Linked DNA regions of Homo sapiens: region 1 is linked to region 2. A link means that fine-mapping ties the variant in region 2 to the expression of a gene that starts in the linked region. Tissue or cell type: whole blood. Region 2 holds a variant in brackets; the other region holds the start of a gene. All regions are shown on one strand. Distances are from middle to middle.

Region 1 (8,106 bases), 87 kb before region 2:
AGTCCAAATCTAGTACAAAAGCTTCTTGATTTAATTCCCTTTCTGTCCCTTCTGCCCATAAACTTTAATTCATCCCCTCTCTGTTTGGCTCCATAACTCATTCCTGTCCTTGTCACACCTGGCTTTTCAAGTCCAGAGCCTCTCAGGGGTTTCAAAGCTGGTGACCTCCCTCTCTAGATGTCGTCTAGGGCTAGGCCGAAGCTTCCTTCTCCCTGCCTCATTAGGCACCTCTCTTCTATGCCCTTCCCAGCTTCCAGAAATATGTCCACTCATGCCTGCCCTCTCCCTCCATTCCTCTGTGGCTAAGAATTTATTCCTTTTTAAGGAGTTCTTTGCTATCATTTTAATGGGGTTGTGGGACAGGGAGCGACACCTGTGTTCCCAGTTTGTAGTCTCAAACCTGACACCCGGGAATTCTAAAGTCAGAGAGATCTGGGTTTATGCCCTGCAAGACATCGGCAGGCATCTTGACTGCCCTGCATCTGTTTCCCCATCTAGGATGTGAGGGTGAGAAGCTCCACACCACATGGATTTGGTGAGGATGAACTCTACCGTATATGTAAAGTGGCTGACAGTGCTGGGCACCATGTTCAGTATGTAAAGTGGGTGACAGTGCCTGACACCATGTTCAGTAAATGATACCTGTCATTGTTGCCTGGGTGCAGTTCCTAGAGATGTGGTCTCTTATTTGCTCACTCACTCATCCAGGGCTGAGTGCTGAGCATATCACAGAGTTCCTAAGTCTAAAAGGGGTAGGGAAGTCAAAACACCCAGTGAAGTCAACCGAGCAAGTGATCGCAGAGCTGGCAGCATTCTTGGCAAGAAGCTGTTTTTCCTTGCTTGGCTCCCCTTGGTGCAAGGATATGTCTTTTGCCTGAGACTCTAAAACTTCTTCCCTGGCCTTGGATTAAATGGCCTGTTGGGAGAGCCTCCCCGAGCTATGTGCCAGTCTGCCTCTGCTGGGCCCCTGCTTTTAGGCGGAGGACACATGACTGTCTCTGATGGGAATGAGTGAGAAGCTGAAGATTTTGGGAGAGCGAGGCCAAATCCCTGTGTGGCTCCAGGAACAAGGATAAATATAGCCAGAGTAATTGCTCATGCTCTTTTAAGGATTAAAAGTCAGCTTTTGGGCAAGCTGTGAAGCTCCATGATAGCAAGGGACACAGTTCCTTTTTTAGAACTGTGGTCAGCACTCCTTGTGCGTTGCTGGATCCCAGGCCTCCATGACGCTATTCCCAGTGGAGTAAAGGGATCGCCTTCACTGGTCTACCTGACACAAGGGAGGGATGGGTCTGAAGTGTTCCTGCCACATCCCATTGTCCCACATGATGTCTGGCACACTAAAGGTGCCCAATGAGCATTTTTAAATGGATGAGTGAGCTGTGAGAAATTTATGCTTTTAAAAATAACCTTTAGGATAAGATGTGTAGTCTAGTTAACAGTAGCATCCCAGTGCCAATTTCCTGGCTTTGAAATATACTGTACAACACCGATGTAAGATGTCTCCGTTGGGGAAGCTGGGTAAACGGTATGTAGGAGTCTTTGTACTATTTTAGTAACTTCCTGTGTATCTATAATTATTCCAAAGTAAGAAGTAAAAAAAAATAATAACCTTTAGTCAGGATCATGACAATACCCTTTGACACTTGGGGGAAGCAGTGCTGGAAGATGAATTGAGTAAATCCCTGTTTACAGCAATGCTTTTGTTTTGTTATTATTTATTAATGTAAACACATGTTTTGCTCATATGATTCAAAACTTTAAATGTATCAATAAGGTGTAACCATGGTCAGTCTTTACCCCAGCCACTTAGTTTTATTCCCCATTGGCCACTAATCTAAATGTTATTCATTTCTTGTGCTAATTTTAGAGATGATATGCATACTCACATATGAACTTGTGTGTATACATGAATGCAAGTATATATATGTATTTGCGTGTATATATGTACATATTACAATATGTACACACACACACACACACTCTTTTTCACTCAAATAGTAGCATTTGATAGACACTGTTATTTTAGTTTTTCTACTTAATGTATCTTGGAATCTTTTCAGATCAGTACACCAAGAGCTTCCTCACCCTTTGTTGTGGCTGCACTCCATCTTCTGTTATGGCCCCAGTTGCTAGACATTTATGTTGTTTCCAATCCTTTTGCTTTTGTAAATAATGCTGCAATGAATAATCTTGTTCGTTTGTCGTTTCCCAAGTGTGGGAGTGTGTTTATAGAATAAATTCCTAGAAGTGGAATCGGGTCAAAGGGTATAATCTTGATAGTGCTAAGTTGTCCTCTATAGAACTTGTTCCATTTTTACACACTGACAAGTCATGTGTTTTATAAAATGGTATTGCTAATGCAATGATTAAAAAGTTATTTGGTGATGCCTTTGTGTGGTGAAAGCTGTGGGTCTTTACCCAAGAGAAACATAAACCACGTAGTGGCTTACATGCAATTTCAGTTGGCTCAGAGACCCCTGAAGGTTATCCGTGAACCCTGGGTTCAGAAACCCTGGCTGAAACGGAGGCAGCATGATAAAGAGGACAGAGCTTTAGGGACAGACCACCTGAATTCACATCTCAGTGCTGTCACTTATTTACTGGCTGTGGAACATCAAGCAAGTTGTTTTACTTCTTCCAGCCTCAGTTTCCTTTTGAAGGAAAGGCGTAGACACTTGTGAGGATAGAGTGCTTTTATGTAAATCATCTAATCTAATGCTAGGAATATAGTAGGTACTCAATATGATATATGATTTTGAACTCTCTCTCTCTCTCTCTCACACACACACACACACACACACACACACACACACAGCCAGCCCTAAGTTCCATTTCAACTTCTGATTTTGATTGTCCCTGTAGTGCCTGCTGCTGGACTCACAAGATCAACCTTTGAAGCGACATTCCCTAATGTGGGATCCTTGGACCAAGTACATGAGAATCACCCAAGGGCCTTCACTAAAATGCAGATTTCTGGGTCTATGTCAGATCCATAGAATTAGAATTTCTGAAAGAGGAACCCAAGGAGCTTCACACTTGGGGGTTCTAATGCACATTGAAGTTGGAGAAACAGCACTGAAGAGTTTGGTCAGTTCCTTCTAGACCATATACTTGCAATTCTAGTAGTTACCACCATGTGGCTTTGTGGGGGACGGGGGTTGTGGGGGGAGCCTGTACCTCCATGTGGACAGGTGTGGACACTTGAGAGAAAGCATGGCTAGTACCCAAGACAGCCTCCTCTGGTTTCATTTACAAAAAACAATTATTGATGAGGGTAGCGGACTTCATGCGCTGCACCCCTGTTAGTGATCTCTCTTACAACAACCACACAGAAGAGACAGGACTTCCTGAGAACCACATGCCTGAGGAAGGTGCTGGGATGGAGGCTCAGTGGGCCAGGCTCAGTGGAGAGCATCTGCCACTGCTGCACAACTGATCTGTGGCCAGGAGCTGAGCATAAGGACTGTGTTTGCCAGGAGAGCTTGAGGCCATAGGCCTGGGAGCTCCAATCCCTAGTGCTCTCTACCATGACTACTGAATGTTTTCTGGGTGGCTAATGATGGCCAAAAGCTAGGGTTCCCGGATTTATCAAACAAAAATAGAGGATGACTAATTAAATTTGAATTTCAGATAAATAACAGTCTTTAATACAAGTATGTCCTGTGTTTATCTGAAATCCAAATTTAAATGGGTGTCCTGTAATTTATCTAGCAACTTTACCTAGGGTTTCTCTGTGCTGCTCTAACCACAGAAGGGGCTGAAGTCCCCATGTGGCTTGCCCCCAGCTTGGAGCTCCATGATCCTGGCCTTGGGTAGGCCCTATACCCAAGGCAGGTGAAGAGTGTGTATGGACAGGGTATGGATTTCCTGGGCAGGGGCAGGAAGCTCATTCATACTGATCTAGCTCTTATGAGATGCTGGCAGTGTGTTAAACACTTGACTAACATCTCATTTAATCCCCTGACTACCTAGTGAGTCGGGCATTATCATTATTATTTCCACTTTAGAGATGAGGAGACTGAGGCTCCACGATGTTAAGACCACAGGCTGTTTAATGGAGGAGCAAGGTTGACATCCCTGGGGCTGGTGCCAAGTCTGGGAGTAGCTGAATCTCCCAGGCCATTCTCTCTGGCAATCCCAAGAGTTTAACGCAGTGGGAGCAGCCCCTGCCCCCGAATCCCCAGGACAGGAACCATTCCCAGTTTCTCTTGGCGCTGGCCCAGGGTCTTCTCCAGGCTCACATGCTTGCTGGAGGCTCCAGGCGGGTGGGGAGATCTGCAGGGTCCCTTTGTTCCCGTCCGGCCAGGACAGTGTCCAGTGGCACGAGTTGCCATGGGGACTGCCATCTGCTGTGTGGATACCCATCGGAGGGGCCCAGGGTGAGCGACTGCCCCAAAGGCCCAGCCTGCCCTGAGCCCTGAGGCCAGCTGGTCGGCTTTCCCTGCCATTATCCCCCGAGCCAGGCCGGAGTGGGGCTCCCAGAGGAGCTCTCGGCTCTAAGTCCCAGCCCCTCTCAGAGGAGGCGTGCGGCCGAGGTTCTGCAGCCAGAGGCTTCTCGGCTCTGAGCTCCGGAGCCAGATGTAACATTGACCTTAAATGGTAAAAGCTCCCCAGAGTGAAGAGAGGCTGGCCAGAGGAGGAAAGGAGAATAACTCAGTTTTAGGTAAGCCTCCCCTATATCCTAGAATAACCTGCCTCTTCGGCTGGGAAGCGGAGGGAACCTTCTCTTCCTTAAAGGTACAGGGTGCTGGGATGGGGGTGCTAAACTTTAACTTTCCAGGGGAGCTGGCTTTGTTGGGTGGCATTTCAGCTGAGTATCTTTATTGTTGCTGTCTTAAGTTTTAAATCAGAAGTGAATCTTGCCAGTCCTAACTTAACTAGATTGTGCTCCTTTTGCTTGCCGTTGGAAAGTGTGCACAGCTCAGGGTGAAAATGTGGGTCCTGACAGGCGATTGCAACCCCTAGCTTTCCTGTGGGCCCCTTTGTGGCAACAGTGGGGTCTTCAGCTTTGGCAAGTCTGCTAAGCAGAGCTTTCTCCCCTCTGTGCTTCCTGTGTCTCTCTCTCTGTCCCCCTACGCCCCTCTGCCTTGAACCTGGGCTGGCATGACCTGTCTAGATCCTTAAGCCTGCCTCTATTTCTGTCTCTGCCCTTCCCATCCTGTGTTCTTGTCACAGTCCCTGTTTTTATCTCTGTCCCTGTCTCCTCTTTTGTCTCCAGCTTCCCCTGGCCTGTGCCCTTCCCTGCTCCCTAGAGGGGGTGTATGTGCCCGGCCCGTGCCCGGCCCTGCTCACCTCCAGGGCTCCGAGTTGAAGCGATTCCTAGAGTGAGCACCATTTGAACTGGCTTTTTCCAAAGGAAAAGCCAGTGGAAGCCAGAGGCCAGAGAGAGGCCCAGCTGTCTTGCTCCCTCCTGCCCAGGAAACAGTTGTAAAGGCTATAGAGGCTCTGCAGTTTGAGTAAACAGCAGCCCGGGGTCTGGGACCCCTGGCCAGCACTCCAGCCTCCCAGAGCTCGGCAGCTGCTGAACACTCTTCAGGCTGCTCACTGGGGTGGCACAGGGAAGTAAATCTGGTCTGAGCAGAGTCTTTTGCAGGGAAAAGGAGGAAGCTTCCTGGGACTGTGAGGCTGGGGGTCCAAAGGAGTCAGGACCTGCCAAGGATTGTATTGCCCCCACCGAGGGACGATGACATGCTAGTGAGGCAGGTGGAGTTGCCCATCCCCCTGCACTCCCCTACCCCAACAGTTCTATGGGGGAGGGAACTCAGGTTAAGTGACTTGCCTAAGGTCGTTCCACCAAGATGGAGCGGAGCTAGGACTCAAACCCTGTATGAGTTTGTATGACTCTAACTCCAGTGCCCATGCCTCTCAACACAGACGTGAATGCCAGGGTATGATGCTGCCTCCAATTGTGTCTTGCGATTTTTGACCTAATGGACAAAACAGTTGTCATTATCATGTTTGTACTGTCCATGATTCCATAGTGCGTGTATGTGTGTGTGTGTGCATGCATATTTGGTGGGTGGCTGTTTATATTCACAGCGGATGCACCTATCTTTATGCTTGGAGGTAAGGGAGGCATTCCTGTATCCTTTATCATCTTGGAGGGATAACCATGTGCTAGCTGCTACTACATGATTGGTTATCCCCATAAATATATTTCTGAAAGAAAATAAACAGCAAACACATGGTTCTTACTATGTATTGAACACTGTTCCCCTTCCCATACAGTAACTCATGACTCCCACAGCTCTACAAAGCAGGGGTCATTCTTTCCACCCTGGTCTTGTAGAGGAGGACACTTTAGCACAGAGAGACTGCACAGCTGATGCTCAGCCCCAGGCCATGGTCTCTGGAGGCTCTGCTCTTGACCTCCATGGTCAGCTCCCGTCTGCTTGGGACCCCATGTCAGAGTGCAGCGGGGGAATCACCGGCCCCCTTGCAACATGGTGCATCTGAGGCTTTCCACGAGGGATTTCACATGCCCCCTCACAGAATGCCATGGGGGATGTATCTTTACCTTACTGCTCCAGGTGAGGACAGTGGGGCTAGGGGATGTTAAATGACTCGTCCAAGCTCACCCAGCCACCAAGTGACAAAGCAGGGAATTTAAATAGTATCTTGGGTGAGGAAGTTAGGGCCATGTGAAACCTACTTGAAACTGAATCCCTGGGAGGCTGAGGAGGCTCATGGTTTGGGGATGAGGAGTTCTGTGGGTCTGTGTGAGGAAGCTAGGTTCCTTGACTGATGGGCTGAACTATACGTGATGGGTCCTCAGCTTTCTAAAAAGCCCTGCCTTTCTCCTCTAAGTCTTTGTAACAGAGGTGGACAGAAGCACCCCACACCTCCTGGAGGAGCAGACTGAGCCCTGCAAGGGCGGAGACCTTATCCCGTTCCTCACCCGTTGTGTGTCTAGCACCCAGAATGCCGGGAGCACACGAAGTGCTCAGGTTCAATCATGTTTCTGTGAATAAATGGACACAATGCTTATAAAGTGGGTTCTGGTTACACAGGGCCCTGGGTTGATTTTGTACATGTGCCTGATGATCAGATTCATCTAGTTTGACCCTAAAGAACACAAGGTGGGGGCCTGAAGTTACCCACCTCTCTCACCCTGCCTCCTCTCCTGGGTCACCTCACAGAGCCTGGACTGCCCCTCAGCCGCTCTCTCTGGGGCTTATTGGTCAGCAGAGGGATTGTTTGCTGACTGAATAGAAGCAGAGGCCTGGGTAGATAGGGAGAAGAGAGCTTGGGGCCCCCAGACTCTGGCCCTGCCCCTGCCCCTTGGGGAGCTGAGTCAGAGGAGGGAGATGGAGAGCTGAGTTCTCAGGTAGTGAATGTAAAAGGAAACGGGAGAAAATTGGTATTAATTGAGCTTCTACTTTGTGCCAGGATCTGTGCTAGATCTGTTATTTAATTTAAGCCTCATGTTAGAGATGAGGAGAGAGGCATACAGCTGGTAGGTGGTGGACTCCAGCTCAAGCCACCTTGGTCCAAAGCGGGCGCTTCCTGCATTAGATGTCACCCTGCCGCTAGTTAGTAACTTAGGTCCTGGGGCAGTTACTGAGTGTCACAGTCCAAATCACAGGAAAATCACGAATAGAGGGAAAGGGGATATCATGTTAGTCCTGTGGACCTTGGAGGCTAGACTCTGAGTTCAGGCGACAGTCCAGGGCAGCCTCACAAATGGGCCTTCAAATTCAGAGTCTTAGCAGAGGTAACTCACGCCCATGACCCTGGACAAGCCCTGCCTTCTCTGCAAGGGCTTTCTCCAAGGGAGGTGGAAAGCAGAGGACAGTTGGTCGGACAGGAAACATTTTTTTTTTTTTTAGACAGGGTCTCGCACTGTCACCCAGGCTGGAGTGCAGTGGTGCAACCCCACCTCCCGGGTTCAAGCAATTCTCATGCCTCAGCCTCCCAAGTAGCTGGGATTACAGGTGAGTACCACCATGCCTGGCTAATTTTTACATTTTTAGTAAAGATGGAGTTTTGTCATGTTGCCCAGGCTGGTCTCGAACTCCTGACCTCAAGTGATCAGCCCACCTCAGCCTCCCAAAGTCTGGGATTATAGGCGTGAGCCATCGCACCCGGCCAGACTGAAAACTT
Region 2 (8,106 bases):
CAGAACCAGAGAGGTAACAGGTAGCTAAGAGAACTTCTAGTTGAATCTCATATCCAAAGAAGAATTGCTGACTGACCCATCTCTGACAGATGATCCTCCAGCTTACTTGGCTACCTTGAGTACCAAGGAATCCATGCCTACCATTCTCTTACTGGCAAGCTCAAAGTATTTAAACATATTTTACCTTGAGCCAAACTAGATAGCCTCTTGTCTCTTCATGGTCTCCTTTGGTGAGACTTCTTTCTATTCACATGATTCCCAGTCTTAACTCTTCAGGTGGCTACAACTATGCCTATAGTCCTGGTCTCTAGCCTAGCCTAGGATCCTGGAAAATGATTGAGCAGATTGGAAAGCTACCAGGTTAAAATCCAGGAGAAAGAGTAAAACATGGATAAATATGAAGTTCTACATGCAAATGGAAAGTAACCATTATACAGGATGAGGATAACTGATTTGGGTCAACTAAAGAGGTTGAGAGTTTTGCTTAATGCTAAGTGTACTGTAAGCCCGTAGTCAGGCACACAAAATCTATGCTGCATGAATAACAAACATCAATGCCAGGGACATTTACCAAAGTCTTCCTGTGCTAAGATCTTGTTAGAGAACATCTGGGCCTCTGTAACAGCAACAAACCAGAATGTGTGCAGGAATGGGATGGTATCTAGAGACCATGGGCCACAGTGGAGCACAGTGAGCTTGTTGGAAAAATGGAGCTAGAGTCTGGAGAAGAGAAGCTTTAGAGAGGCACAGGAGCTGTTTTCAAACAGGAGAAAGATTTATGGAAAAGAGAATACTTGGTTTGTTCATTCTGTCTTCAAAGCACAGACCCAAGATAGTTTTAGAAGTTTAAAAAACAAAAAGCTGTTCATTGTCTCTGTTGACTAGGAGGCATTTATGTTTCTGAGATCTGTAAAAGATCTAGCAACCTTAGGTTTACTCTGGAAAATCTCTTATCTATGGGGTATGGAATCAGATGTTAATTTCTAAGTAGGATACATAATATAGAACATTTTAATTTATCCGAGGAGGAATAATTGAACAACAGGTCTCCTGAGAAGCCTGCCAAGGAGCAGGTTTTTTTCCCAAACATTATAGCCAAAGAGCCAACCAGCTTCCAATTGCCAGCTTAATACTGTGGGAAGCAAAGGGAAGAACATAACATTTGAAGCAGGTAGACCTTGAGGTCTGGCCATGTCATTTGCTAGTTCTGTAATCTTGAGCAAGTGACTTAACCTTGCTGAGCCTTGGCTTATCTACATGTGAAATGGGATGACTAAGTTCTAGCTCATTGTGAGAATAATGTAAGATAACAATTAAAAAGCCCTTAACATAGAACTAGATACTTATAAATGTCAAAGCTCCTGAAGCTAGCTGCCAACAGTACTACTGTGATTTCAAAGAGACATTTTATAAGTAAGCACTTTTTTTTCAGGGCTTCCTTCTGAACTCTCCCCAGCTATTGAGGAAGAAGAGTCAAAGAGTGGCTTAGATGTCATGCCTAATATTTCTGATGTGCTGCTGCGCAAACTGCGGGTCCACAGGAGTCTCCCTGGAAGGTAAAATCAGGATGTGGGTTACAGAAGGCCCTGTACCGAGTGGCCCCTGTGTTGGATTCTAGGTGGGACACAGAGGAACACCAGTCTTAATTCTTGAACCCAGAAGGGCCAAAGTCCAATTGTCTAGATAGGGATAATGCATTCGAAACAAAAAGAATAATGAAAGGCCAGGCTGGGTGTTTTCAACTCAAAGGCCAGGTGGGGTTCTTAGGTGAGCACAGTTCATGAAGGCATAAGGGTCACCAGAAGCTCATGGCAGCAGAGAATGGGCTTTGAGCCAGGAGACATGGGTTTCAATCCCAGATACACCATTTACCCATGACTAGTTAAGTTTTCAAATATTTTTTTGTAGAGATAGGGTCTTGCTATGTTGCCCAAGATAATCTTGAACTCCTGGCCTCAAGTGATCCTTCTACCTCGGCCTCCCAAAGCACAAATAACATTTAAGTAACCAAATGAATGATTTGAAAGAGTAAAGTTGGTAGAAAGACCATAAAATAGGGCACATCTAGAGAATGACATGAGAGTGGGGCATTGGGTAGGAGGTCAAGGAAAGGCCTCTGTGATAAAGTAATAATTTGAGATGTGCAAATAACAAATGACAAAAAGCCACTCATGCAAGGGTTTTGGTAAGATTTACAGAGGAAAAAAATTGTAATTTTAACAAACGGTGCTGGGACAACTGGATAGCCACATACAAAAGAGTGAAGTTGGACCCCTACCTCACACAAAACACACAAATTAACTCATAATGGATCATAGACCTAAATGTCAGAGAGAACACTATAAGACTCTTCAAAGAAAAAATATAAGTAAATCTTCATGTCTTTGGGTTTTTTAGATATGGCACCAAAAACACAAGAGACAAGATTTTAAAAATAAATAGTACTTCCTCAAAATAAAAACTTCTGTGCTGCAAACAGTGTCAAGAAAGTGAAAGGCAACCCACAGAATGAAATATTTGCAAATCACTTATCTGAAAAGGAACTTGTTTCTAGAGCATATAAAGAAGGCTTACACTCAATAAAAAGATAAATAACCAATTTTTCAAAATGGGGAAAGGATTTAAATAGACATTTCTTCAGAGAAGATATACAAATAGTCACTTAAAAAAGATGCTGTGTCCTTTTAGAGGCTCACAGCTCTGCCCCCGGGTACCTATGCCCATTTGTAAGGCACAGTTATCTGCATCAGACACCAGACATACCATGTGGCTTCTCTGCCTAAATCATACTTCTCTGAGTCCTCAGAGTTTCCCCCCAGACCCCCACTTTTTTTTTAAGGTGGGTATGTTCTAACTGGGTGTGGTGGCTCATACACCTGTAATCCTAGCACTTTGTAGGCTCAAGGCAAGAGGATCACTTGAGGCCAAGAGTTTAAGACCAGCCTGGACAACAGAGTGAAACTCTGTTTCTACAAAAAATAAAAATAAAAAATTAGCCAGGTATAGTGGCATGCACCCATAGTCCCAGCTACTCTGGTGGCTGAGGCAGGAGGATTGCTTGAACCCAGGAGTTCAAGGCTGTAGTAAGCCACCTCTGCAGTGATCCTGCCACTGCACTCCAGCCTGGGCAGCAGAGCGAGACCCTGTCCCCAAAAATAAATAAATAAAATAAAAATAAGGTGGGTGTGTTCTACAGCAAAAAAGCAGAATGTGAGTCATTGAAATAGAAAAATGTTTGGTTTATAATTTATGAAAATATGTGCATTTCACATAATATCCCAACAAACCCAGGAGTCAGAAACAAACTTGGCAAGTTTTGCCAAATCATTTAAATCATATGTGTATGCTGTAGATGACAGTTAAGGCAAGGGCCTGATGGGTGGGGTTGTGACAAGGACTGTAAGTGTCAAACATCCCTGCAGCTGTTTGTCCCGTGTTCTGGACTCCGCTGACTTCATGGCCATGGGGTCTTCTCATCCTGACAGGAAGGCACTCATATCATTCCCTAGGGGTGAGAACCAGCCCCCTGCAGAGATGGCTGACCCCTACCTTTGCTCTTGGGGTCCCTTCACACCCGTTCAAGAGAGGAAGCTGTGTTTCCTGAGAAGCTTATTGATGGCATGCTCTGTTGCCAAGTTCTGTGACGCTGGTAGGACCCCTCCCAGGCCTCCCCGCCCCAGCACAGGAAAGGGCCTGTGCATTATTTACATTGTGTGGACTTCAGATGGGGCCAGCTTTAGTTACCAGCAAGAGCAGCAGCCACAGCAGCATCGAGTGGACATGCAGATGCAGGGACTGCCTATAGCTGGAGAGCCCTGGCTGTGGGAACGCCACAGACGAGGAGCTGCTCAAAAGGATGCCTCTGTGTCGGCTGGGGCTTTCTTGCCACTCTGTGATTCTAGCCATCAGAAGTTCTTGCTGTGGAGAAGAACCCTGGTCACTCTCTCCTACCATTTATTCTCTGGCCCGCATGCACCTTTGTCACAGCCCTCAGAGACAGAGGAGGGTGAGGCTTTGCAGACCTGGGTGGATATCCCCAGAACAATTATAATGGCAACTTAGATGTGTATGAGTTATAAAGTCCTTATCACATGCATTTTCTTATTTCTCACAGCAAGGCTATGAGTTCAAGGTCACATTTCCCGAGAGCCCACTGAGTGTGGATGCCATATATTTATGCATACAAACACATACACATACATACATGAGTACATATAGTGCTTATAATACCTCTGCAAGGTAGGTGATATGATTCCCATTTTGCAGATGAGCACGCTGGGGCTTAGAGAGATTAAATAACTTGTCCAAAGTCACAGAGATAGTCATGGTGCCGTAAGAGTCAGTATCTCACAGGTGACAGAGCACAGGCAAGGGGACATTGCATCTTTTCCTTCTCACCAACACAGCTTACTCCACCCCTGGAAACACATGGTCTGCTGGTCATTCAGAGTCACCTTTGGGTCTATTGACTAGGTTGCACACAGTTCAATTGTGTGTTTTCTTTTTCACAGTGCCCCTCCACTCACTGAAAAGGAAGTTGAGGTAAGTGAC[T/G]CAAGTGTGTTATGAAATTTAGTGCCCGTGCTTGACTGGGCTTATTCAAAACATTTCTTCCTCCAGACTCTAGCTCTGACATTTTTAGACAAAAATGAGAAAGAGTGACTGTGGGGTAATGTGAACATTCATGACCAGCCCTCTTGAACCATGAGATCCCCATTCCCACGTCCGTTCATGGAAGATTTTGACAAATTTGGGCAAAAGGGAGAAGGTAGTTGGAAATTTTACATTCCTGTAAGGATTGTTTATATTCTTTAAATGTACGACTTAGATACACAAAACCAGCTGGGAGGCTGCAGAATTGAATCAAATTTATTTCAAAATTACTGAAAAATGGTCAGATTTCAAGTTCTAAGCTTTAGTTTAGTGGGAAAGGGGGCTGGCCTCCTCAGGGTTTCAGCTACAAGAATGCCAGCTCAGCGGAGCCGGGAAGCTGTGCTGTCAGCAATCCAGCCTTCCGGTTTCCTCACTGGGGCCTCCTTGTCCCAGCGGGGTTGTGAGTGAGCTGAGGGGAATCTGCATTTCATTCTGTAGCGGACAAAGAGAACTTATCAGAGGTGAGACAATGAGAACTGCTGATGTGGACCAGATAAGCAGAGGAAGACAGACAGTATGAAGTATCTACCACAGGTAGTATCTATAACTTGCACACAGGCATTGCACTTGCAGTCTATAACACACGCATAGCCATCCTTTCAGCTGATCCTAACCAGCAGCTCTGAAAAGCAGGTGGAGCAGGAATCAGCACAAAGGAGAAAACTGAGTGAGTAAATAACCACACCAAGTTTCTAGATACTGTAGTTGGCAAAACCAAGACCTAGATCCAAGTGTTCTCACTGAATTCAGAACTCATTGTGTCACACTGCTGTTAAGGGGATAATCAAGGTATAGAAAATTAAGCATTGAGCATTATTCATAGACTTGACCAAGGCCGGGTAAGGCAGAAAATTTCTATCACTGGGCTATGAGCTCTAAGCCTACCCACTGACATTTGTGAAGATGGGCCATGGGCGGTTTGTTTAATGTCCAAATGCTGACCGCAGATGTATATGGACACAGCTCTCGGCATGGTGGAAATAAAACAGGCTTTCAAATCAGACAGTCTGAGGTTAAATCCTGGCTCCGTTACTCCGTGTCACCTTGAACAAGTTAATGACCGTTCTGGTCTTGGCCTCTTTACCCATAAACAGGTATAACAGTTCCCACCCCAGAGGGTTATTGTGAGATTACATGAATTTGTAGAATGAAAAGCAGTGCTGGCATATAGTAGATGCTCAATAAGGAGTAGTTTTCAATATTGCCTTCATCATCATCATTGGGTCAATTCTGTACCTTCAATTCTTCTGGAGATGACTGCCTTCCATGGGCCATGTTACATGAACTTCAGAAGCCCCTGTGGTTACTAACCCTGCAGGGTATAAATCTGCTACCACTCAGGGCAGATGATGGCTGTAAAATTGAAGACCATTGCTTCCTTCCTGAGTGAGGTCCATCTGTCTATTTCTTCTCCCTAGTAGTTTCCTACTGTTCTGGGAATTCCATGTATGACCAATATTATCTTTTCAAAGTCTGTTCATGCAGGCTGCAATTTTAGCATGAAACATTTATTTATTCCAGAAAGCTTAACCGAACAGAATCATACCTGGCCTTATTTAATCTCCTGGCAGCTACTTAAAGCTTCTATCAATACAGGATTTGGAATACTCGGGCTAGATGCTGATTGAAGTTTGCTTTACGTCAACAATGCTTAAATCTCACATGGAGTTTCTTTCAATACAGTATTTTCCTGCAAAATCTCCAAAACCCCTCATGCAATAAATCCCAGCATAAATCCAGATGCTTACACAATTAGCTGTACTGGCCTGAGTTTATCTAAACCCAGATACAGGATGTTATTTTCTTAAAATTCAGGAAAAAGCAAAGTGTTATTCTCTTCTTATTTTTTGGTAGAATACATTTGGACCTCCGGTTCTGGGAAGGGCCTAGCGTGGACCTTGGTCCCTGCTTTACCATCTTTTTTGTGGTTTCCTGTGAAGTGAGCGTTTCCCTTGCACATGGCTGCTTTGGTGCTTTGGCGGCTGTTCCAGGGGCCGTTGCAAAACGCTCGTGCAAGGAGCACAGCTGCAGCCTTGTCCTCTGCAGTAACTCCTCCCAGCACCTCTCTCACACCCTTGTTCCCAACAGAACGTGTTTGTGCAACTGTCCTTGGCCTTTAGAAATGACAGCTACACTCTGGAATCTAGAATTAACCAGGCTGAAAGGGAACGCAACCTGACAGAGGAGAACACTGAGAAAGAACTGGAAAACTTCAAAGCTTCCATTACGGTAATTGTGGAGCCTGATGTGAGGAATCCCTGGAGCAGAGACTGTCCCCAAGGGCCATACAGGGTGTCATGCTTCTCTCAGGTACCAAGTATAGTCTCCTGAAGTGAAAAATTGAGCCAAGACTCTGACAGTGTTCCTCAGAGAGTTGGGGGGAACTGAGGCAGAGATCCCAAAGGCCTGGTTCCCTCAGGGCTGTGGACAGGTCCTCCAAAGCCTTGGGAGCTTCTCAGAAGGGGGCAGGGTGGCCTGGGTGTGACTCCTACTTTCAGGCGCCAGGGATAGCGTGTTCACATTGGGCTTCTCCAAGCACCAGAAGAAACTGTGGCCCAGGCCCTGCAGAGGCCACTTCTCTCAGCCTGGATGGGGCCCAGAGCTGCTTTCATGAGAGCTGAGTCTAGGCTTGGTGTGTGTCTTAGTCAGTTTGAATTGCTGTAACAAAGGGCCTTAGACTGGGTGGCTTAAATGGCAAACATTTATTTCTCATAGTTCTGGAGGCTGGAAGGCCAAGATCAGGGCACCAGCATGGTCGGGTTCTGGTGAGGGCCATCTCTGGCTTGCAGACTACCACCTTTCCATTATATCTTACATGGTGGAAAGAGAACAGAACTCTCTGGGGTCCCTTTTATAAGAGCACTAATTCCATTCGTGGGGCTCCACTCTCCTCACCTAATCACCTCGCCCAGGCCCCACTTCACTATCACATTGAGGAGTTAGGATATGTCCCCCCAAAAGTCAGCAGATGACTTTGTGGGGGGCACAGACATTTAGCCCAGTGGTCCGCATCCCCTGGGCCAGGCCGCAAACCGGTACCAAACCATGGCCTGTTAGGAACCAGGCTGCACAGTAGGAGGTGAGCTGCCTGAGAGCATGACCTCCTGAGCTCCGCCGCCTGTCAGATCAGCAGCAGCATTCGATTCCCATAGGGTCACGAACCCTATTGTAAACTGTGCATGCGAAGGATCTAGGTTGTACCCTCCTTATAAGAATCTAATGATCAGAGGTGGAAGAGTTTCATCCCCAAACCATCGCCCCCACCAGGTTTGTGGAAAAATTGTCTTCCAAACCAGTCCCTGAGGCCGAAAAGGTTGGGGACTGCTGATTTAGTCCATAACATTATTTGAGGACCCCAGGTGATGCTCCTACTCCTGTTCAGTCCTCAGCTTCACTCTGGCACCACTGTGAGCACCGGGAAACCTACCAGAAGTTGCTGGAGGACATCGCTGTCCT

What was found. PIP is the estimated chance that this variant, and not a neighbour inherited with it, causes the effect.
Region 1: it holds the start of IRAG1, and the variant in region 2 is fine-mapped to the expression of IRAG1 in whole blood (TOPMed, PIP 0.99).

What each region holds. Positions count from the first base shown.
Region 1 is chr11:10,690,096-10,698,201 of GRCh38, reverse strand. It overlaps IRAG1 (inositol 1,4,5-triphosphate receptor associated 1), which reads left to right and starts at 4,447. Exons shown (of 21, transcript NM_130385.4): 1 at 4,447-4,666. The coding sequence starts at 4,600.
Region 2 is chr11:10,603,178-10,611,283 of GRCh38, reverse strand. It overlaps IRAG1 (inositol 1,4,5-triphosphate receptor associated 1), which reads left to right. Exons shown (of 21, transcript NM_130385.4): 11 at 1,433-1,556; 12 at 4,512-4,542; 13 at 6,739-6,879; 14 at 8,033-8,106. Among named protein-coding and RNA genes, the nearest start is that of LYVE1, 39 kb to the right of the region's middle. RefSeq lists enhancers at 4,848-5,142, 4,868-5,162. The variant T/G (reference allele first, on the strand shown) is at 4,552.